Homo sapiens: one gene and its partners. The protein of the gene in region 1 purifies or fractionates together with the protein of each later gene. This does not show direct contact. Each region holds a gene or a part of one and is shown in the gene's direction. Other genes may lie near its edges.

Region 1 (2,594 bases):
AAGGTTCGTTCTGATGTTTCTTCTTCTTTAAGGAAATCTTTAGCCATAGAAGTGTCACTTTTTTTTTTTCTGCAAAAGAATTCCAAGATGAACGGGTTGAATGAATCATGCCAGCCAGGGTCACATCCTGTCCTCAGGGGGCCCAGTGCTCAATAGTAGATTCTGCGGGAGTGGAGAAGCGTCAGTGGCAGCTCCGCTCACTTGGTGAGTGAGGGATTTGGCTGTGATGAGCCTCAGCTCCGAGCTCTCAAATGTCCTCCAGCCAGCATCTGCCTGCTTCCCACAAAAGGATAGAAGAGAGGCAAAGTGCGTGTTTCATAAAACCTGCCTGCACTTTTATAACCCATCAAAGAGGCCATTTTTAAACACAGGTACAATTTAAACATGATCTTTCTTTGCAAATAAATATGTTTTGTTTCATCCTGTGTTCTGCTTTTCTAAGCATGACATACTTGTGCCCATTGGAGAAGACACCTGTCTCTTCTTTCTCACACCGGTGGTGCCTCACTGAGTGTTTCCGGGTTCATTTTCCGGGAGCACTGGGCCTGACACTTTCACACTCTTCTGACTTTCGCCTTGTTGCAACTGATGGAGCATGTGTGCTTCCTCTGAGGCCAGCCTACAGGAGGCAGCTGTTTCGCAGGTGGTGAATTCGACTTTACTGTGGCATTGTGAAGAGCAGGGTGCACAGGAGATGATTTTTTCTCCATGGCTTTGTAAGAAACAGCCAGGAAAGTTCTCAGATACTTTCCATGCCCTTTCTTTGAGTTGAAACTTTCTATTTCCCTTCAGTCAGAGCTCTTTACTATAGTAGTTACAAAACCAGTGCTTTCCATGGCTGGCCAGAACCACAGCTGCTATTCCTTTTAGAAGCCATACTGCTGGGTTTGGCCTACTTTTTTCACCGTTTCTATGGAAATAAACCTCACATTGATGGAAATAGAATGCGTGTTTCAGAATCATCATTCAATATCTGAAATGATTTGATTGTAAATTATCTCATGGTCCCTGTTTGCAAACCACCCTCTTAAGAGAGAACATTGTTTTGGACCTAAAGCTTGAAGAACGGTTTATGTATTTTTCTCCTTAAGTAGCATTGCATTGAGTGTTAGGTTCTTTTCCCTTTTTTTCATTCTTGGTCTTCCCAAAGCTTCTTCCCACATTTCGTTTGTGTCTGTTTCCACCATTCATAGAAACCTTGGAACCACTCTCACAGCAATGCTAGGATGTTTCATGGACCTGTTAAGCATTTTGATGATACAAGACATCCTATCAATGCCAGTCTTATTTTCGCTAGGACTCTGCTTCCACAGTAAGCTCCTAAGGTGCTCACCCAACCCAGGAGAAAACAAAATTCATTACCAAATACAACAGGTTCAGCCTTCTTGGTCTTCCCTCAGAAGCCACCGTGTAGCACCCTGGAATGATGCCTCTTTATGCCAAGGCCCACCCTTTGGAATTGGGAGGGTTTTGGGTAGAATCCTGCACTTACAGAGGCCCTTGGGGTCATTGAGAAGTGGAGGAGGTTGGACACAGAAGGGGAGGCTAAACACAAGGTGGGGAAGAAAAAATGTAACCATTGGCAGCCAGACTGAAGCTAGCCCTTTAAAATACGGGGTTGGGGGGTTAACATCCGCTCTTTGGAATGTGCTCAGTGACTGCTGCAGAGTTCCTGGGCCACCCTAATGTTTACCAGGTGGGCGTTGTTTATATGGTTCTTATTGTTATGACAACTAGAAATCCCACAGTAGACTAGACAGTGCTCCCTACCATTTCCCATTTATAGGATTGAAATCAAGATGTAAGGAGAGCTGGCCGGGCGCAGGGCTCACGCCTGTAATCCCAGCACTTTGGGAGGCTGAGGTGGGTGGATCGCCTGAGGTCAGGAGTTTGAGACCAGCCTGACCAATATGGTGAAACCCTGTCTCTGCTGAAAATACTTAAATTAGCCGGGCATGGTGGCAGGCACCTGTAGTCCCAGCTACTCGGGAGACAGAGACAGAAGAAATGCTTGAACCCAGGAGGTGGAGGTTCCAGTGAGCCGAGATCACGCCACCGCACTCTCTAACCTGGGCGACAGAGCGAGACTATCTCAAAAAAAAAAAAAAAAAAAAAAAAAAACTGTAAGGCGAGCTAAGACGTCTGTCTATCAGTGTTCCATTACATAATACACCTCTTTCCTTCACATGTGTGTGCACATTCTCAGGATTATATTAGAGATTTGATTCTTTGCAAGGGTCAGTATCAGTAATGGCTGAGACTGGTGGGCTGCAGTCATGTTGCTATGCCGTAAGAGGTTTTTACAACATTTCCCCTTATCACACTTTATTCTAACCTGATGATGGGCCTATCTCAGGTGAAGATTGCAATAGTTTCCTTAATTGAACTTTGGTATTTGATGCATTAAATAAATATGGCTTTTTAATTTTGCTATCTTCTGTGAATTTAAAGGAATTATTTCATTGATGTCTACCAAAGAAGATAAAAAAACAGTTGGATGTGAAATTTTTTTAGGTTGTGGGAATGCTACGTTGTAAAAATCTTCCTTTTCTTCCATGTTCACTAAAAAATGCCTTTAGTCCATTTCAGAAAGT
Region 2 (3,274 bases), on another chromosome or scaffold:
TATGGCCAAAGCACGGACATCAATGCCTTTGTGGGTAAGCCAGGGCTTGAAACAGTGGTGGACATTAGTTCACAGAGGGGCTTACCTGATGCTATGGTGGTTCCTGACTTTAGGCTGTGGATTGGAGGCTACTTTTCTCTGTGAACCTCAGACATTGTTAGCAAAATTGTGCGTATGTAGATGTGCATTTTTAGGGGGAGAGGGTCTTTAGCTTTCATTAGTTCAGTAATTCTTAACTGGGGGAGATTTTGCTCCCAGGGGCCATTTAGCAATGTCTAGAGACATTTGGAGTAGAACATGTAATTGGGAAGGGAGAGTGGGTAGAGAGCCTCTTACAAAAAGTCAGAATTAAAACACATTTTTCCTCCTATTGACAGGGGCGGTGTCACTGTCCTGTTCTGATTCTGGCCTTTGGGCAGTAGAAGGTGGCAATAAACTTGTTTGCTCAGGGCTTCTGCAGGCATCCAAAAGCAATCTTATATCTGGCTCAGTAATGTACATCGAGGAGAAAACAAAGACCAAGTACACAGGTAAGCTTGAATTTCTTATTGTTCCTGATATCCCCTGCAGAAAATGATTGCTCAGGGAGAAACACTTCTCTTCTGTCATCTCTTACTCAGTTCTAAAATGATGAAACTTGAAATTGTATATATTGTACCATATAGAAATATTCCCCAATGGGCCAGGCACGGTGGCTCATGCCTGTAATCCCTGTACTTTGGGAGGCCAAGGAGGGTGGATCACCTGAGGTCAGGAGATCAAGACTAGCCTGGCCAACATAGTTAAACCCTGTCTCTACTAAAAATACAAAAAATTAGCCGGGCGTGGTGGCAGGTGCCTGTAATCCCAGCTACTCGGGAGGCTGAGGCAGGAGAATCACATGAACCCAGGGGGCAGAGGTTGCAGTGAGCCAAGATCACACCACTGCACTCTAGCCTGGGTGACGGAGTGAGACTCCATCTAAAAAAAAAAAAAAAAAAAAAAAATTCCCCAGTGTAGTTAAGTGCTGTGGCATCACTCCTTGGATTTGAAAAATAATCTTTTTTTTTTTTGAGATGGAGTCTCGCTCTTTTGCCCAGGCCGGACTGTAGTGGCCTATCTCGGCTCACTGCAAGCTCCGCCTCCCGGGTTCACGCCATTCTCCTGCCTCAGCGTCCCGAGTAGCTGGGACTATAGGCGCCTGCCTCAGCGTCCCGAGTAGCTGGGACTATAGGCGCCTGCCACCGCGCTCGGCTAATTTTTTGTATTTTTAGTAGAGACGGGGTTTCACCATGTTAGCCAGGATGGTCTCGATCTCCTGACCTCGTGATCCACCCACCTCGGCCTCCCAAAGTGCTGAGATTACAGGTGTGAGCCACCATGCCCGGCCGAAAGATAATCTTACCTTCAAAAGTAAAAATTCTGTATTTTGTACTTACTGACATTCTGAATAAGAAATTGGCCTCAATGTAATAAAAATGCAAGGGACAACTATCTTAAGGGATATAACTTCTTCAATTCTTTAGAATTATAGAGAAATTATGAAGAAGGTATACAATTATTTTTAGAAGGTATGTTAGAAACACTAAACAAATATATGCCTCCTTATTTCCTCTAGGAAATCCAACAAAGATGTATGAAGTGGTCTACCAAATTGGAACTGAGACTCGTTCAGACTTCTATGACATCGTCTTGGTGGCCACTCCGTTGAATCGAAAAATGTCGAATATTACTTTTCTCAACTTTGATCCTCCAATTGAGGAATTCCATCAATATTATCAACATATAGTGACAACTTTAGTTAAGGGGGAATTGAATACATCTATCTTTAGCTCTAGACCCATAGATAAATTTGGCCTTAATACAGTTTTAACCACTGATAATTCAGATTTGTTCATTAACAGTATTGGGATTGTGCCCTCTGTGAGAGAAAAGGAAGATCCTGAGCCATCAACAGATGGAACATATGTTTGGAAGATCTTTTCCCAAGAAACTCTTACTAAAGCACAAATTTTAAAGCTCTTTCTGTCCTATGATTATGCTGTGAAGAAGCCATGGCTTGCATATCCTCACTATAAGCCCCCGGAGAAATGCCCCTCTATCATTCTCCATGATCGACTTTATTACCTCAATGGCATAGAGTGTGCAGCAAGTGCCATGGAGATGAGTGCCATTGCAGCCCACAACGCTGCACTCCTTGCCTATCACCGCTGGAACGGGCACACAGACATGATTGATCAGGATGGCTTATATGAGAAACTTAAAACTGAACTATGAAGTGACACACTCCTTTTTCCCCTCCTAGTTCCAAATGACTATCAGTGGCAAAAAAGAACAAAATCTGAGCAGAGATGATTTTGAACCAGATATTTTGCCATTATCATTGTTTAATAAAAGTAATCCCTGCTGGTCATAGGAAAACACACGGTTCTAATTAAGTGTGAAGGTATAGCTATTGCACTTATGCCATCTCCAAAATTTCTTAAGTATTCTTTCACTATCCATTAGGAGTTTTTCTTAAACTTGTCTGATAATAAGAATCACCTGGAGTTAGGAGGTGGTGGTTGCAGTGAGCCAATCTCACCATTGCACTTCAGCCTGAGCAACACGAGCAAAACTCCGTCTCAAAAGTAAATAAAAATAATCACCTGGAGTTTGTTAAACCATATGGATTCTCAAGCTCCTCTCTTGAAGATTCTGATTCAGTAGGTCTGGGAGTGGCGCGCTGGATTTTGATCAAAATTGTAGAGCATTTTAAGGTGAGTACCTGAGGGAGAACTTAAAGACATCTTAGTTGGGGAGTAGTCCTTTTGAATTTTACAGCTAGATATAATCTTCAGTCAGATAAAATTTATGGGAGCTGGTGTCTTATGCCTGACTCTTAGTAATTTCATACCGGTTTGAAGTACGTGTGCCCATGCCTAAAGCCTTGACTTTCAGAATGTTGTCTTTTGATTCTTCTGTCTTGATTTGATTAGGGGTGAAATTTAGAAGTCTTAGTAATGTAACTTGAAGATGTTAAACAAAAATCTCAAGTAAAATGAAAAGCAAATATGGGCTACTGAATTAAGAAACTGGCATTCTAGTATTAAATCCTCACTTCAGGAGCTTTTAAAAATACTGAGACCCCCCCATAACCAGAGATTCAGATTCAAAGACTGAGGATAGGACCTTAGCATTGTAGCTATTTAAAGTTTCTAATGTGCACCCAGGGTTGGGAATCACCAATGTGGGTGTGAAAATGCCTACAAAGGGTTTTAGTGCCTTAGAAGTCCTAAGAAGCCCAATCTGTATC
Region 3 (3,500 bases), on another chromosome or scaffold:
AATTTGGAGAAACAAAAGACTAAAAAGCCCTGGGCTCCTTTACCATTAAATATTCATCTATTGTTAGGAGAAAAAACTTACGCAAAGGGGATACTCACTCACTAAGCTTTAGCCTATTGCCTCATCCAGGGGTGGTTGAGTGAACTGAGGCTTTTAAATACAATGATGGAATCTTCCTCATTAAATATAACATCAAAAAGGTTATAGAAAAAATAATGGTCAAAACGATTTGTTTTAGGGGAAAAAATTAAAGTTTAAAAAAATTTGAACATTACAAATTATTTGGGGGTTAGAGCAATTACAAAATATATATATATACTTTGCATATTTGTATTATATCTGTGGATTCATGTGTGTATCTTTTTCATATTTCAAGTGATTTTCCTATTTGACTTTATAGAAAAAATATATATTGTCTTAAACTTGGAAAAATTAGTATTTTCATTTGAAACAGAAATTGTGATAGCCACATAAACGATACTAAAATTATCACAGAGTAGCACCTTATAATAGTGTGGAAAGATGGACTTTGGAGTTACAGTTATATAGGATTTAAACTGGATTTAAAATCCAGCCTCCCTGAAACTATTGTCTTATGTGTAGAATGTGCATAGAAACCTCAATCTTGAAGAATAATTCTGCAGTGCAATTGGATAATCTATAAAATGTATCCATCAGAGTGCTTGGTCCACATGCTCAAATGTCTAGTAAATAAATAAAAATTACATGCTTCCATTTATACCCATGGTGACAATTATCATACAGATCAATTACTTCTATATCTATTCATTGCTTTTGTTGATACATGGTTTCTGAATAATTTGAGAACATGTAAGTGCTTTTTCCCAATTCATCTTCTTTAACCCATTAAGCCTAAGGAATCAAAGAATTTACCCATTCAAACACCTTAAAATGTTTCCTTTGAGACTGTTACCATATCATGACCTACCTAATACATTTCATAGACTAGCCCATAGGCCAATGGCCCATCACATGAAAGAGCCCCAGCTACATCCTAGCATTATTGGACAGTCCCAGGTGTCCAGAAAGAAGGTCAAGTTTATATATGGTCAGCCTGATGCCTTCTGAAGAAGGTCTGTATTTGTGGTGAATCAAAATTAGCCAGACAAAACTGACCAGTCTCTAAGTAGAGCCTAATTTTTTGTTTGTAGTCCCAAGCTCCACCACAGTGTTCCTCAATCTTTCCTGTGCCCGGGGATTCAGTAGATCTGAGGTGGGGTCAAAGAAGCACATTTGGCTACCAAGTGATGCCACAACTGCTGGTTGTAGGACCACATTGTCGGTAGCAAGGCACTGAAATACAAAGGCCTGTAGTTTTATAAGTTAGCGACCATCTAAGTTTTCCAACAAATAAGGCTTTTCAGCCCTTTTCTCCAGTATGTATGCAGGGATTTGATTGGCACTGGTTATTCAACGTGGTCACAGACAGGAAAACATGACTTGGGAAATACATCTTGAAATAAAAACCAGATATCATGATGTTGAGGGCATAGTCAGATTAATATGTTCCAATAAGACAGAAAGCTTTATGTGGAGTGACATGGACCCTTGACTATTTATTGAGAAACTAGAATACCTTACCCAGGCAGAATTTATCTCACCCCACCCCTTAGTCTGCTACTATTCAACCTATGTAGTAATTTAAATATTTCTTCTTAACACTATTTTTTTCTTAATCTGCTGGAAATGAAGGAATATTTTCCTTCTGGGATATTATATTAAATATTGCACTAAAGACTGTTGAGCAACATTGTACCAAATATTGTGCCAAATTTTAGAAAATAGTTTCTAGTTTCAAATAGTGCTTAATCTAGTTAGATATGGGGGCTGAGCTGTATTCAGTTAGAAATAACTTTATGGAAGCTTTTTCTTGGCTTTGGAAGATAAAGAAGATTTGCAGAGTCAGAGAAGAGTAAGAGAAAGTGAAACATAAAACTTTTCAAGTAGTGGGAAGTTAAACCTACAAGAGCTTCCACCCTCCAACCCATCTTAGCTCCTAGATCTCCTGTTTTTCCTTTAATCCTTAACCCCTGCTACACCTGAGATAGGCAGCCCTCACCGGTTACTTGGAATCCAAGAGTCACCCAGTTATTCAATGTCACAAAATAGAAATTGAGACAAAAATTAGCCCCAGATTTCAGTGCTTGAAGAGGTACGTGTTCCTGGTGTTCACAACCAGAACTCCAAACTCATTTATTTTCCTTATAAAAATAGTGTTTAAATAAAGACGATTTAAGTTCTGTAATACTTGGCACATAGTTAGATGTGGCTCATTTAATGAAGCAGGATGGTGACATTCAGGACAGGCCAGAAATTGGAAGCAGATTTACTGACTGCCCCAGTGGGACCAGAACTGGGAAGGGTGCGCAGACTATGGTCAGAATGGGATATCCAAGGGCATCGGACAGGTCAGAGTGGGTGATTCAGAAATGGGGAGATCAAACAGAGGCTCGGGAGTCTTCTAAGAACAGTCTTAAAGCATCTGCTTCCCAACAGATCTAATTAAACTCAGTATCAAAGTTCTGTTTTTCTCTTTTCCCTCCTTTCATTTCAGCCGGGACAATAGTTTCCAGGTAAATGTATTTAGATTAACAGGCATTTCTTCCAGAGTGAATAAATGATGATTGTCATTTATGTGTTTTTTATGTGTTTGCAGTGCTGAATGCTTTCCTATATAACTATAAAACAAATGTTAAATACAAATATCTGTCTTCAAGAGATTTTCCCCTAAAAGTCATGAGAAGAAAATATATCCAAAGAATGAATCTGAACCTCTGTTAGCTGTTTCGATTCAATATTTGGTTTAATTGCAATATTTTAGCATTTTGAAGCCCTTGTTAACAGGCCCAGCAATGTGTTATCTTTACAAGTGACTACTTTTTTTCTTTTCATGTGATATTTTTCAAATAGATTGACAAGGAACAATATGATAAAATACTTGACCTCATTGAGAGTGGGAAGAAAGAAGGGGCCAAACTGGAATGTGGAGGAGGCCCGTGGGGGAATAAAGGCTACTTTGTCCAGCCCACAGTGTTCTCTAATGTTACAGATGAGATGCGCATTGCCAAAGAGGAGGTAAATGGCTTCATTCTGTTCTGTTCTTTTTGTTGCCATGTTTTGTCTGTTTGTGTGTATACAAAGTGTCACTTTAAAATTCCCAGCTCTTTGGAACATCTTTCCCTCTAAACCTTACTCTTTATTCTGTTCTTGATAGAGGTTTAAGTTATTTGTGATAGATACTAAAAAGTAGTAAGGGATCCATGGGGCCAGCCACAAATGTTCAGCCAACACAGATCTGGATGCTTAACAATTTTCAGGTGCTGCCTTCACAGCTTTAAAACAATGGAAAAGAATCCTGTCATTTGCAGCAACAACCTGGAAAATTTATGCTCCATGAAATATGACAGGCATAAAAAGACAAATACCGCAGGGTCTCACTTTTATGTGGGATCTCAAAGAGTAGAACTCATAGAAGCAGA
Region 4 (3,500 bases), on another chromosome or scaffold:
CATTTCACAAAAATGGTATTGTAGTCAGAATGTCTGTTTGAGTTGGAGCAGTCTGATTTTAGGGAGTGTGAGATGTCAGATGGGAGGGTCGGCATGGATGTTTAGAGTTCTGGTTTCTTTACACATGTTTGCAGTCCCTTGTCTGCAGGGATGTCTGCAGAAGTATGGAAACTCTTGAAGGTGGGCAGAGAATGACCATGTGGTGGCTGTAAGAGCTCAATCTGGTCCCTGAAGCGATGTCTCCCTGGGGACACTCACTTTGATGTTTTCTTTCTTTTGCAAGCATCCCACTACTACAAATACAAGCAGCAGTTCATCTTCCCAGGTGAGTTTCATGTGAGCTGGAAGCAGCCCCTTCTGAACAAGCCCCGCTGCATTGCAGGAGTTTCTGGGATGAATGGAGGCAGATGTTGTGGGGGTGCCTAAGATCAAAGAGGGTAGTGGAGTCACCACACTCCAGGATAATGGCTGAACATGGAAGTGGAGAAGAAAGAGTGGGCACAGTGGGACCCAAGGAGGTCCCAAGGCACCGTGGAAAGGCCTGAGAGGGTGGAGTGCTGTAGAACACTGGGCGAGGGTGAGGAGGGGTCTAGAGCCATGTGGCAGGAAAGAGATGGTCATAGGGTCCTGAGCTGGGTACTGAGAGGATGTGAAACCAAGGGGCTTTATCATCCCAAAGGGAACCCAGGAGAAAGAAAGATTCAGAGATGACCAATGAATGCTTCAGGCTAGATATTTGAGGGTTCTGGCAGCCCCCTATTCAACAATGAGGAATTTTGTTGAGGATGTCATCCAGAACCCTGGTCCAGCTGAGCAGGTAGAGTCCAGGTGGTCCAGGAAAGGAGAAAGGAGATTGGCCAAGGGCAGAGATCCAAGATCTGGTGAAAAATTGGCTGCCATGTCGCCCAGGAATCAGGCCTTTGCGGGGGTTGTGGACTTCACATTTTTTTTCTGAGTGTTCAATCTCTGGTTTTCAGATGTGGTGCCGGTGCCGGAGACGCCGACCCGGGCGCCCCAGGTCATCCTGCATCCGGTGACCTCGAATCCAATGTAAGTGAGACAGAGACATCTTCCCCCTTTCCCAAGCTTCCCAGCCCTGGCCCTACAATCCACTCAGGTTCCCTATCTTCTTTCCTTCTCTTCCTGGAACTGATGGAGTTGGGGGCAGAGGGAGATGTACAAGGGGGTCAGAGAGACATAGGGAATAACTTAGGCAAAGAGAAAGGGCGTGACAGCTCAGACAGAGAGATGGAGAGAGAGGCAATGCTGTTCCTCACGAGCAGCTATGCCTTGTGTCTCTGACCCTGCCTGTCAAATGCAATTTCCAGGGGCTGGACCGTTTCCTAAGGACCCATAACCTCCCTGTGATTAGGAAGAAAACTTTCCCCGGGTGATAGCTAGTACTTAATGAAAGGGCAATTATTCCATGTCACTGAACATGGAATAACTTTCAAAAGTCTCATTGAGGTTTATGGAATCAGCAAACTATAGCCCATGGGACAGATCCAACCTCCTGCTTGTTTTTATTTAAAGTTTTATTGGAACACAGCCATGCCTATTTGTTTACAATGTATTGTGCATGGTTGCTTTCTCCATGCAGCAGCAGAATCGAGTAGTTGTAACATAATCTGTATGGCTTGCAAAGCCAAAAATATTTACTCTATGACCCTTTGCAGAAAGAAATTTGCTAACCTCTGGTTTATATTATTATAAAAATAATATAAGCTAATTTTGGAAAATGTGGGCTATTCTTTAAAAAGGGAAAGGCAAAATAATCACTCATGATCTCACCACTGTTAAAACTTCTATGTGTGTTCTTTCCATTTATATTTTACATAGTTATGACCCACAATATATGCAAGCAGCTACCATCCTGCTTTGTTATCTTTATGCCAAACATCACATTTTATGAATATTATTTTAGCCTCTCCATAGACATTGTTGGTTTTTGTTTTTTGTTTGTTTGTTTTGAGACAGAGTCTCACTCTGTCACCCAGGCTGCAATGCAGTGGTGCAATCACGGTTCACTGCAGCCTCAGCCTCCTGGGCTCAAATGATCCTCCCAGCTCAGCCTCCCGAGTAGCTGGGATTACAGGTGTGTGCCACCACACCCAACTAATTTTTGTATTTTTTTTTTAATTTTTTATTTTTGTAGAGACAGGGATTCACCATGTTGCCTAGGTGGGTCTCAAACTCCTAGGTGCAAGTGATCATTCCACCTCAGCCTCCCAAAGTGCTGGGATTACAGGCATGAGCCACTGCACCTGTCTGATATTGTTTTTAATGGGTGTAAAATGACATATTGATGTAGAATAATTTTCTTAACCATTTTCCTATTGCTGGATTTTACATTGCTTCCCATATTTCATTGTTGTAAATAATGCTGCAATGAACATCTTTGTGCATAGCATCCTTAGGAAACAGACCCTCTTTTCAGGTGGTTTATTGCTTGTGCAGCAGAAGTGAAGTCACCTTGGCCAGGCGCAGTGGCTCATGCCTGTAATCCCAGCACTTTGGGAGGGCAAGGTAGGAGGATCACCTGAGGTCAGGAGTTGGAGACCAGCCTAGCCAACCTGGTGAAACCCCGTCTATATTAAAAATACAAACATTAGTCAGGCGTGGTGGCACACAACTGTAATCGCAGCTACTTGGGAGGCTGAGGCAGGAGAATTGCTTGAACCCAGGAGGTGGAGGTTCAGTGAGGTGGGATTGTGCCACTGCACCCCAGCCTGGGCAACAGAGGGAGACTCTGTCTAAAGAAGAAAAAAGTGATGTCACAAAGTCACCTCCTTAACTTCTTTGGTTGCGATGGAAGCCTGGGGCTTGCTAGGATTTGACCAGTTTCCTAACTCACCTTTGTGCCTACTTAGTTTTTCTTCTGGGTCCCCTAACTGCTTCATCTTTTCTGACTGGTCTTATGGACTTTGTTAAAGACTTACATGGTACATCTCTGAAATCAAAGGAGCAGCAACTTGCCGGGGGATATGGTGCTGACATCTAGCTCGAGATCATTTCTCTGCTTCACATAAACCAATTCTACAATTTGTGCAAGATGAACTCCAGGTTATTAACTGACAGTCCAGAGGTACCAGCGAAAAACAGAGTCAATAGCTGCTTGCGATCTGCTTAAATGTGCGCGGAGTGATGACAACTCTTTGCAGAAGGAAATACTTGAATAGCCCTGGCTGCTGGAATCACGCCTTGATGCAGAGAGGAGGGTGGCCTGTTTTGGTTTTGGGCATGAGGAGGGACTCCAGCTGCATTGTCCCAGCCAAGTCTCCCCCAGGGCATCAAGTTCTCAGCATGTCAGCTGTCATCGTGCAGGTTCATTCCACTTTCCCAGGCTGTGCTATGAATAATTGGTTAATACCATGGCGAATGCCACTTTGTGGTTGACCTTTCTTTCTCCTTCTTTTAGTTCTTGTGGTCTTTCAGACTCTTTCACCAGGACCCCCTCCAGCAAGTGGATTGACTCTGTGGAGTCAGCCACTTCCTGCAAT
Region 5 (2,757 bases), on another chromosome or scaffold:
GCCGCCACCCCGGTCCCTGTCACTGCACAAGCAGGTACGCAGGTACCAGGTGCTGCTGTCACTGATGCTCTCCAGCCAAACCAAAGACCAGGTGACGGCGGGCGCCATGCAGCGACTGCGGGCGCGGGGCCTGACGGTGGACAGCATCCTGCAGACAGATGATGCCACGCTGGGCAAGCTCATCTACCCCGTCGGTTTCTGGAGGGTGAGCCCTGCCTGTGGCAACGGGGGCCGGGTGGCAGTGGCCTGAGAGAGACCTCAGAAGGCTGAGGGGGGTGGCGACGGTGCAGGAAGTGAGGGTCAAGCATCTCAGGCTCGGGGGGTCCCCCTGAAGCCCCCCCCAGGCCGTGGGGCCCTGAGGCCTGACGCCCAGTCCCAGCAGCTCCTTGGCCTTCCTGTTCGCATCCTCCCTTCCTTCCTCTGCTTCCCCGCCTCGCCGCCTGCCCACCCTTCCTCACCGCCAAGGCTGCCTGCCCACCCGCCTTTCCCTTTGTTTACTGCTAGCCTCTCCCGGTGTGTCACCCCCTCCTGTCCAGAGCCCCTCACCCTCCAGGAGCCCTGGGGAGGCTGCTCCCCAACCCCGCCGAGCACTGGATGGTGGTGGGCGGATCTGTTGAAAGCAGCTTGGTGGGTGGGGCCGCTTCCCCTTGGCACCCGCGTGGGCCGCAGTTTCTCAGATGGGTTTTAAATAGCCCTCTCCACTCAGGCACAGGATGGGAACCACCCGGCAGGCCTGGCAGCTGGTGGGGAAGCCCCAGCTCCAGCCCTCCTTCCTGAAGGCGCAGGTGCAGCCAAGCCCCACTCCTGGGAGCGGCTGGCCTGCTTGGCCTGGCCTGGGTGCTGGCAGGGAATGACGGGCAGGGGAACCCCAGCCAGAGCCTACACGTGCATCATTGGCCCACACGGGTGGGAGGAGGGGGTCAGGCCTACCTTGGGCCTCCCTGCTGCCCTCCGCTTGTTCCCGCCTCCTGGGGGGCGGGGGCTGAGCTTGCACACGTCCTCAGCAGGTGCAGGTAGCTCTGGCCACCTGTGGGTCTCCTGGGGGCTGCATCCTCCCAGGTTGGGCTGTGCCCTTGCCTCCAAGGCTGAACCCACCCCTGTCTTTCAGAGCAAGGTGAAATACATCAAGCAGACCAGCGCCATCCTGCAGCAGCACTACGGTGGGGACATCCCAGCCTCTGTGGCCGAGCTGGTGGCGCTGCCGGGTGTTGGGCCCAAGATGGCACACCTGGCTATGGCTGTGGCCTGGGGCACTGTGTCAGGCATTGGTGAGTAGAGGAGGGCGGGGCTGGCTCCAGCCCACTGGCTGCTCTTGGGATTCCCCACATCCTTGTGACCTGTGACTCCACTTCCAGCATGCTGGTCCTCCACCCAGCCCATAGAGTCAGAAAGGTGCTCCCAGGGTGGAGCCAGGCCAGCCCCACTCAGAGACAGGTGCTGGGGCAGGAGGTCACATGGGCTGAGCACCTGCTCCGTGCAGGGCTCTGAGAGAGGCCCCGGAGCTGGACTCCATCTGCGTTGTATTCGGGAGAAATGTGGAGCGAGGAATTCCCCACTCGTGGAGTGGAAACCCTGATGGTTGTGCAGGGTGCTCTTGGGGCCTGGCTTGGGCCCAGGGCCTCTGGGAAGGCCCCCAAGGTCATCCTTCACCTGAGAGCTGCAGAGCAAGGTGGGGTGAGCCAGGCCAAGAGGAGGAAGTGTGTTCCCAGCAGAAGGAACAGCATCTGTAAAACCATGATGCGAGAGAGAGGGCCAGGAGCAGGAAGTTCTGGAATGAGATGAGGGCAGAGTGGGGAGGTAAGGACTGAGGAGGGAGGAGGAAGAGTATCCCCTCAGCAGGTGGGGTGGGGAGGGAGGTGCTGGGGGGAGAAAGGGGGAGGGTGGGGAGGGAGGCTCTGCGGGGACAGGAGGGGAATGGTAGGGAGGGAGGCGCTGGGGGAATGGGGGAGGAGGGTGGGGAGGGAGGCGCTGGGAGGATGGGGGGAGGGTGGAGAGGGAGGTGCTGCGGGGAGAAGAGGGGAGGGTTGAGAGGGAGAAGAGGGGAGGGTGGGGAGGGAGGCACTGGGGGGAGGGCCCTCCTTGAATCCTTTTCCCAGGTCCTGGTGTCTCTTCCTAGCACCGGAGGCTTCTTGGCAGTTGGGTGCAGACAGACCCCTGGGTTTGGGGTGGGGCTGCCTCCTCCTCGGCTTTGTCCAGAGGATTTGGGGCTCCTAAGGCCACACGCAGCCGGGCCCAGCCAGTCCAGAAACCAGGGCTTGGCCCTGCCCTCTGTGTGCCCCCATCCCAGGCCCCTTTGGGACTCCTGCAGGGGGCCTGTGCCGGAGGCGGGGGGCTTGCAGCACTTTCTGGTGGGCAAGAGGGCCACCAAGGGCCGGGGGCCTCTATTCTGAGCCGGGGCCACCTGGTGAGGCTGAACAGCCACAGCAGCCCCAAAGAGCCAGAGCCAGGCCAGGTGCGCCGGGGCAGGGCCTCCTCCCGACTGAGACTCCCAGCGTCACCACCTGCCAGCCTCTCAGTGGACACTTGAGCTTATCTGGGCGGCTGTCCTCAGCTGCCCGTGTCCCTGGGGTGCTGCATCGTGGTTGGGCAGGGCTGTGGGGGAAGGTCCCTGCCCGCAGCCAGGCAGGGAACGGGCTTTGGGAGCAGCGGGCACAAGAGACAGCCATGTGGAAATACCTCCCTCTCCAGGTGTCTGTGGGCCTGACCACCTGCAAGGAGACCCCAGGGCTGCCTCCTAGGGGTTCCCCGAAAGAGAAA
Region 6 (2,308 bases), about 78 Mb from region 1:
ACATTTCCGTTCTAAGTCATCTAAAAATGTTTCCCACCATCATCCTCAGCAAACTAACACAGGAACAGAAAACCGAACACTGCATGTTCTCACTCATAAGTGAGAGCTGAACAAAGAGAACACGTGAACACAGGGAGGGGAACATCACGCACCAGGGCCTGTCAGGGGGTGGGGTGAAAGGGGAGGGAGAGCATTAGGACAAATACCTAATGCATGTAGGGCTTGAAACTTAGATGATGGGTTGATGGGTGCAGCAAACCACCATGGCACGTGTGTACCTATGTAACAAACCTGCACGTTCAGCACATGTGTCCCAGAACTTAAAGTAAAATTTAAAAATAAATGAAGTTATTTACTAAAATTAAAAAAAAGTTTCATTTTTCTTTTTAAATGTTTCTATATAGTTATGAAGAAGCCAAGAATTTATTGACCAAGACCAAGATATTGGCCCCAGCCTACTTTATCCTGGGAGGCAACCAGTCTGGGGAAGGTTGTGTGATTACACGAGACAGAAAGGAATCATTGGATGTATATGAGTAAGTAGGTTTGTTAAAGCAAAAGAAGTAGAAACAAAAGCATACACTGATATACTTTGAGTTTTAAGGCATGTAGCCTAAGAGGGAATCTCTCCTTTTGTATCTAGACTCGATGCTAAGCAGGGTAGATGGTATGTGGTACAAACAAATTATGACCGTTGGAAACATCCCTTCTTCCTTGATGATCGCAGAACGCCTGCAAAGATGTGTCTGAACCGCACCAGCCAAGAGGTACCTTTGCAGGGTCATCTATAGAAAGAAACTGTTGCCATTAAAGATTCCCTTGGTTCTGGCATTTTTCTTTGGCCTTCAAGTAATTTATAAACGTCCTATTTTTCATAGTATCTCTAGCCACTCTCCACTGATTTTTTTGTTTCGTTTTCTTAACTTAAAGAGCAAAATTGTGCTGTACTTTCCTTTTCTGGTTCTAATGCTGGATACCACTCTGAAGTTGAATAACAAACAGGCAAGAATTTAAAAAAGGGGAAGGAGAGAGAGGAAAGTAATCCATTAAAACTGTTACCTGTGTTTCTAACAGTGACTCCCACAGAAACTCCACTGCGGGGATGGAGGGGAGGTTGATTAAAGAATGTCTTGGTTTCTGGTGGCCCATGTGTGTAGATAAGGCTGTTGGCTTCTGTATTTAACTTACTGAACAAAACTATTTTCTTGTGTTTTAGAATATCTCATTTGAAACCATGTATGATGTCCTGTCAACAAAACCTGTCCTCAACAAGGTATTTTAAATGTTATATGTATATTTGCCTTTTAGGGAAAGAATTTGGCCCTATGTTTTATCTTTCTCTGTTATCTTTGATCAGTTTGAGCACAAAAGGTGTGTTCAGCTTAGGACTGATTTTTTATTAAAAAATGTTTTTGTGTGGCTAAAACTGTATTTTGGAATACAAGAAAGAAATTGATCACTGAGGCTTGATAGGTCAGAATATTGTTTATAGCTTTATTTACATAGCATTTGAATTAAGGCTAGCATTTTACTCTTATTGGTATCTATTAAAAATCTCACACTATATAACTAACACCTAAATGTCAACAAAACAAAGTCTGCAGTCCATTTTCAGACAGAGCTCTGTGTCTTGGTGGGTTCGGGTTTCCCTTAAACTTTACTACATCTGTTTATCTTTTCCCTACACTGTAGTTTTAAAAAAATGCAAAAAGTTTCCTATCATCCCACCACTCGCTAACAATCATTCCCTGAACGTTCTGAATATGCCCCCCTAATTTTCCCATTTGTTCCTTCTTTTCTTGGTCCTTCTCCACAGCTCTCCCTAAAGTAAACATGCCGCCTTTACCCTGCCAGGACAAATCCCTCCGGCCTTTAGCATCCAGGTCACCCTGGCTCTCACAGGAAGCCTGCCTTCAGTTCACGGGCCCTGCCATACTTGCGTTTTGCCTATACCATCTTTGAGCAAGTCACAATCTCGTGACTTGTGTTTGGGTGTGTGCCTTGTGATCTGGGTGCCTGCAGTTTCCCCCACTGTATTGGAAATGCTTTAAGGATAGGGATAGCCAAAGCTCCACGGTTTTTACTCCATAGGACACCGGCAGGTCTCCCAGGACTGCCAGCTGTGCGTCAAGGAGGGTTAAGGCAGTCTTAAAGCATTGGGGGTGGAGCAATGTGCTGTCAGGAATAAGCTCCTATAAGGAGCTGGAGATTCTTTCCTGAGCCTGTTTATATTCATTACCTGAAACAGTGATCCTGTTGAAGTTGTTTGCTTTAGTTATTTGGTGAGACTTTAGCTAATTTTATATGA
Region 7 (2,318 bases), on another chromosome or scaffold:
AACTCAAATAAAGGTCTCAGTTCATTCCACTGTGGCAACCAGACCCTCCCACTCCTTATACCCCAAGATGTGCACAGTGGCCAAGGCAAGCTCAGACAGGTGGAACCCACCCAAGGCCTGGGAAAGTCAGAGGCTGCTGACTCGGCAAGACCATTAGCTGTGAACTTGGCTCCTGCCTGTCTGCTTCCCTAAGCAGGTGGTCCTCACGTTGGTGCTGTCCCTGTCCTTCTCTTTCATCTCTCTCCTTCACAGATGATGAGCAGGTCAAGACCATCTCCATCAACCAGGTGCTCTCCAATAAAGACCTCATCAACTACAATAAGTTTGTGCAGGTACAAGGGCTGTGGTGTACCTGTGGGCTGTGATTTGGGAGTAGGCGGGGCTGGAGGCAAGGATGGGATACAGACATCTGAGGCTAACTGTTCATGAAAGCTCAGGTTAGAACAGGCCCAGACAGAGGGGTCCCAACACCCTCTTTTGACCCAGAAGAAGTGAGGGGAGCGACAGGATGCCTTGGTGCCCCCAAAACACACTGGCAAGGTGTCCCCAACTCTGGCCCTCCCCTGCCCCCAGAGCTGCATCGACTGGAACCGTGAGGTGCTGAAGCGGGAGCTGGGCCTGGCAGAGTGTGACATCATTGACATCCCACAGCTCTTCAAGACCGAGAGGAAAAAAGCAACGGCCTTCTTCCCTGACTTGGTGAGGGCACTACCCATGACTCCTTTGCCAAATCAGGCTGCAAACCTCTAAGCTCGAGAGAGGAAAAATGTCTGGTCACAGTCATATTTAGGATTGTGGTGGCCAGTGGGGGTGGCAGGGAGAATCAGGGGTCCTATGGTGCTCCTCAGAAGGGCTTCTAGCTGGCTGACCACCATGGTCCCTGTGGAATGCTTGCTGGCCAAGCCCTGGCCCAAGGGGCATCAGGGAAGGGGTCCACTTGACATTTGTGGAGTGAATGAATGATTGCATGAGGTCACGTGTGCAAAGCACATGGCATCAGCTGGGAACCCAGATGCTCATTCTGCTCTCTTCCTCCCAGCTTGTGGCTCTTCATCCATCCCACATGTATTTAGGGTGTCCTGTGGCAGATGCAGAGATGATTAAGAATGCCCCCTGCTCTCAAGGGACTTTCAGTCTAATCGGTTGAGAGGGAAACTCTTCCCTTCTCTGAGGACATGTCCCAGTGATCTATTTTGTAGGATAAGGCGATGTGGCAGTTTGGAGGTGAGACAAAGCACTTCCAGCCTAAGAGGTAGAACTGGAGATCCAGGAAGTCTTCATGGAAGAAGTGGCTTTTGACTGAGCCTTGAGGGCTTTGCCTCTGATGCTTGTAAATCTTTTTTTCTTTTTTTCTTTTTTTTTTTTTGAGACGGAGTCTCACTCTGTTGCCCAGGCTGGAGGGCAGTGGCACAATCTCACTCACTGCAACCTCAGCCTCCAGGGTTCAAGCGATTCTCCTGCCTCAGCCTCCTGAGTAGCTGGGATTGTGGGATTGCAGGCGTGCACCACCACGCCCGGCTAATTTCTGTATTTTTAGTAGAGATGGAGTTTTGCCATGTTGGCCAGGCTGGTCTTGAGCTCCTGACCTCCGGTGATCCACCAGCCTCGGCCTCCCAAAGTGCTGGGATTACAGGCGGAAGCCACCGTGCTTGGCCTGCTTCTAAATCTTGAGCTTGCCTTTGAAACACCTGGACAGGTGGGGCCCCACCCCAGCGGTCCTGATTCAGCAGGTCTAAAGCACGGCCCGAGGCACTGCTGCCGCGCTAACAAACACCCAGGTGGTGCTGATGCTGCCTTTTAGAGGAACACAGTTTGAGTAGCACTGCTATAGGTCACCCAGCTCCCCTCTCCACTCCTCCCCACCTCATCCCCTAAAAGAACTCAATTTGCCCATTGTCAGAGCCTTGTGGGGAACCTGTCCACACCACCATTGCTTCATGCCCCGCTTTTTCCTTCCTCTTTTCAGGCAACATTTTGCCCTCCGCTTGCAAAGCCTCTTTTCACTCCCCTTCCTTCCTGTTCGAGGCTATCTTGTAATTATATATGTGCCCCAAGAAGTTTGTGCAATGATTCAGGTTCTTGTGTTCGCAAGAGACAGAGTCCTACTGAAGCCAGCTTCAGCCAGAGGGAGTCTTAATATAAGGACACCAGAAACCTGAGGGCAGGATAGCTGCAGCAGAGCCTGGAACCCTCTCTGTTTCTGTGTCTACATCATTCATTCTCTCTCTTTCTCTCACCCTCTCCACCTCCTACTTCTTCTCCCTCTTCTTCCAGCTTGGCTTCCTTTGCTTCTCTGTTCCTGGGGACAAAGATGAGTA

What was found.
Region 2: the proteins of PTDSS1 (region 1) and PCYOX1 purify together in Homo sapiens (affinity purification with mass spectrometry; one large-scale study listed by BioGRID and IntAct). This does not show direct contact.
Region 3: the proteins of PTDSS1 (region 1) and ALDH1A1 purify together in Homo sapiens (affinity purification with mass spectrometry; one large-scale study listed by BioGRID and IntAct). This does not show direct contact.
Region 4: the proteins of PTDSS1 (region 1) and KSR2 purify together in Homo sapiens (co-immunoprecipitation; one large-scale study listed by IntAct). This does not show direct contact.
Region 5: the proteins of PTDSS1 (region 1) and NTHL1 purify together in Homo sapiens (affinity purification with mass spectrometry; one large-scale study listed by BioGRID and IntAct). This does not show direct contact.
Region 6: the proteins of PTDSS1 (region 1) and ASAH1 purify together in Homo sapiens (affinity purification with mass spectrometry; one large-scale study listed by BioGRID and IntAct). This does not show direct contact.
Region 7: the proteins of PTDSS1 (region 1) and PADI3 purify together in Homo sapiens (affinity purification with mass spectrometry; one large-scale study listed by BioGRID and IntAct). This does not show direct contact.

The regions. Positions count from the first base shown.
Region 1 is NC_000008.11:96,334,902-96,337,495, forward strand, and holds the end of PTDSS1 (phosphatidylserine synthase 1), read left to right. Parts: 3' UTR 1-2,094; downstream 2,095-2,594. UniProt on the Homo sapiens protein: Catalyzes a base-exchange reaction in which the polar head group of phosphatidylethanolamine (PE) or phosphatidylcholine (PC) is replaced by L-serine. Catalyzes mainly the conversion of phosphatidylcholine.
Region 2 is NC_000002.12:70,275,137-70,278,410, forward strand, and holds part of PCYOX1 (prenylcysteine oxidase 1 precursor), read left to right. Parts: coding exon 1-34; intron 35-377; coding exon 378-530; intron 531-1,597; coding exon 1,598-2,256; 3' UTR 2,257-3,274. UniProt on the Homo sapiens protein: Prenylcysteine oxidase that cleaves the thioether bond of prenyl-L-cysteines, such as farnesylcysteine and geranylgeranylcysteine. Only active against free prenylcysteines and not prenylcysteine residues within prenylated proteins or peptides.
Region 3 is NC_000009.12:72,911,554-72,915,053, reverse strand, and holds part of ALDH1A1 (aldehyde dehydrogenase 1A1), read left to right. Parts: intron 1-2,931; coding exon 2,932-3,096; intron 3,097-3,500. UniProt on the Homo sapiens protein: Cytosolic dehydrogenase that catalyzes the irreversible oxidation of a wide range of aldehydes to their corresponding carboxylic acid.
Region 4 is NC_000012.12:117,528,491-117,531,990, reverse strand, and holds part of KSR2 (kinase suppressor of Ras 2), read left to right. Parts: intron 1-283; coding exon 284-325; intron 326-977; coding exon 978-1,050; intron 1,051-2,933; coding exon of another isoform or gene 2,934-2,994; exon of another isoform or gene 2,995-3,445; intron 3,446-3,500. UniProt on the Homo sapiens protein: Location-regulated scaffold connecting MEK to RAF. Has very low protein kinase activity and can phosphorylate MAP2K1 at several Ser and Thr residues with very low efficiency (in vitro).
Region 5 is NC_000016.10:2,042,078-2,044,834, reverse strand, and holds part of NTHL1 (endonuclease III-like protein 1), read left to right. Parts: intron 1-34; coding exon 35-205; intron 206-1,108; coding exon 1,109-1,268; intron 1,269-2,757. UniProt on the Homo sapiens protein: Bifunctional DNA N-glycosylase with associated apurinic/apyrimidinic (AP) lyase function that catalyzes the first step in base excision repair (BER), the primary repair pathway for the repair of oxidative DNA damage.
Region 6 is NC_000008.11:18,057,800-18,060,107, reverse strand, and holds part of ASAH1 (acid ceramidase isoform a preproprotein), read left to right. Parts: intron 1-404; coding exon 405-536; intron 537-643; coding exon 644-767; intron 768-1,216; coding exon 1,217-1,273; intron 1,274-2,308. UniProt on the Homo sapiens protein: Lysosomal ceramidase that hydrolyzes sphingolipid ceramides into sphingosine and free fatty acids at acidic pH.
Region 7 is NC_000001.11:17,280,098-17,282,415, forward strand, and holds part of PADI3 (protein-arginine deiminase type-3), read left to right. Parts: intron 1-252; coding exon 253-332; intron 333-573; coding exon 574-699; intron 700-2,318. UniProt on the Homo sapiens protein: Catalyzes the deimination of arginine residues of proteins.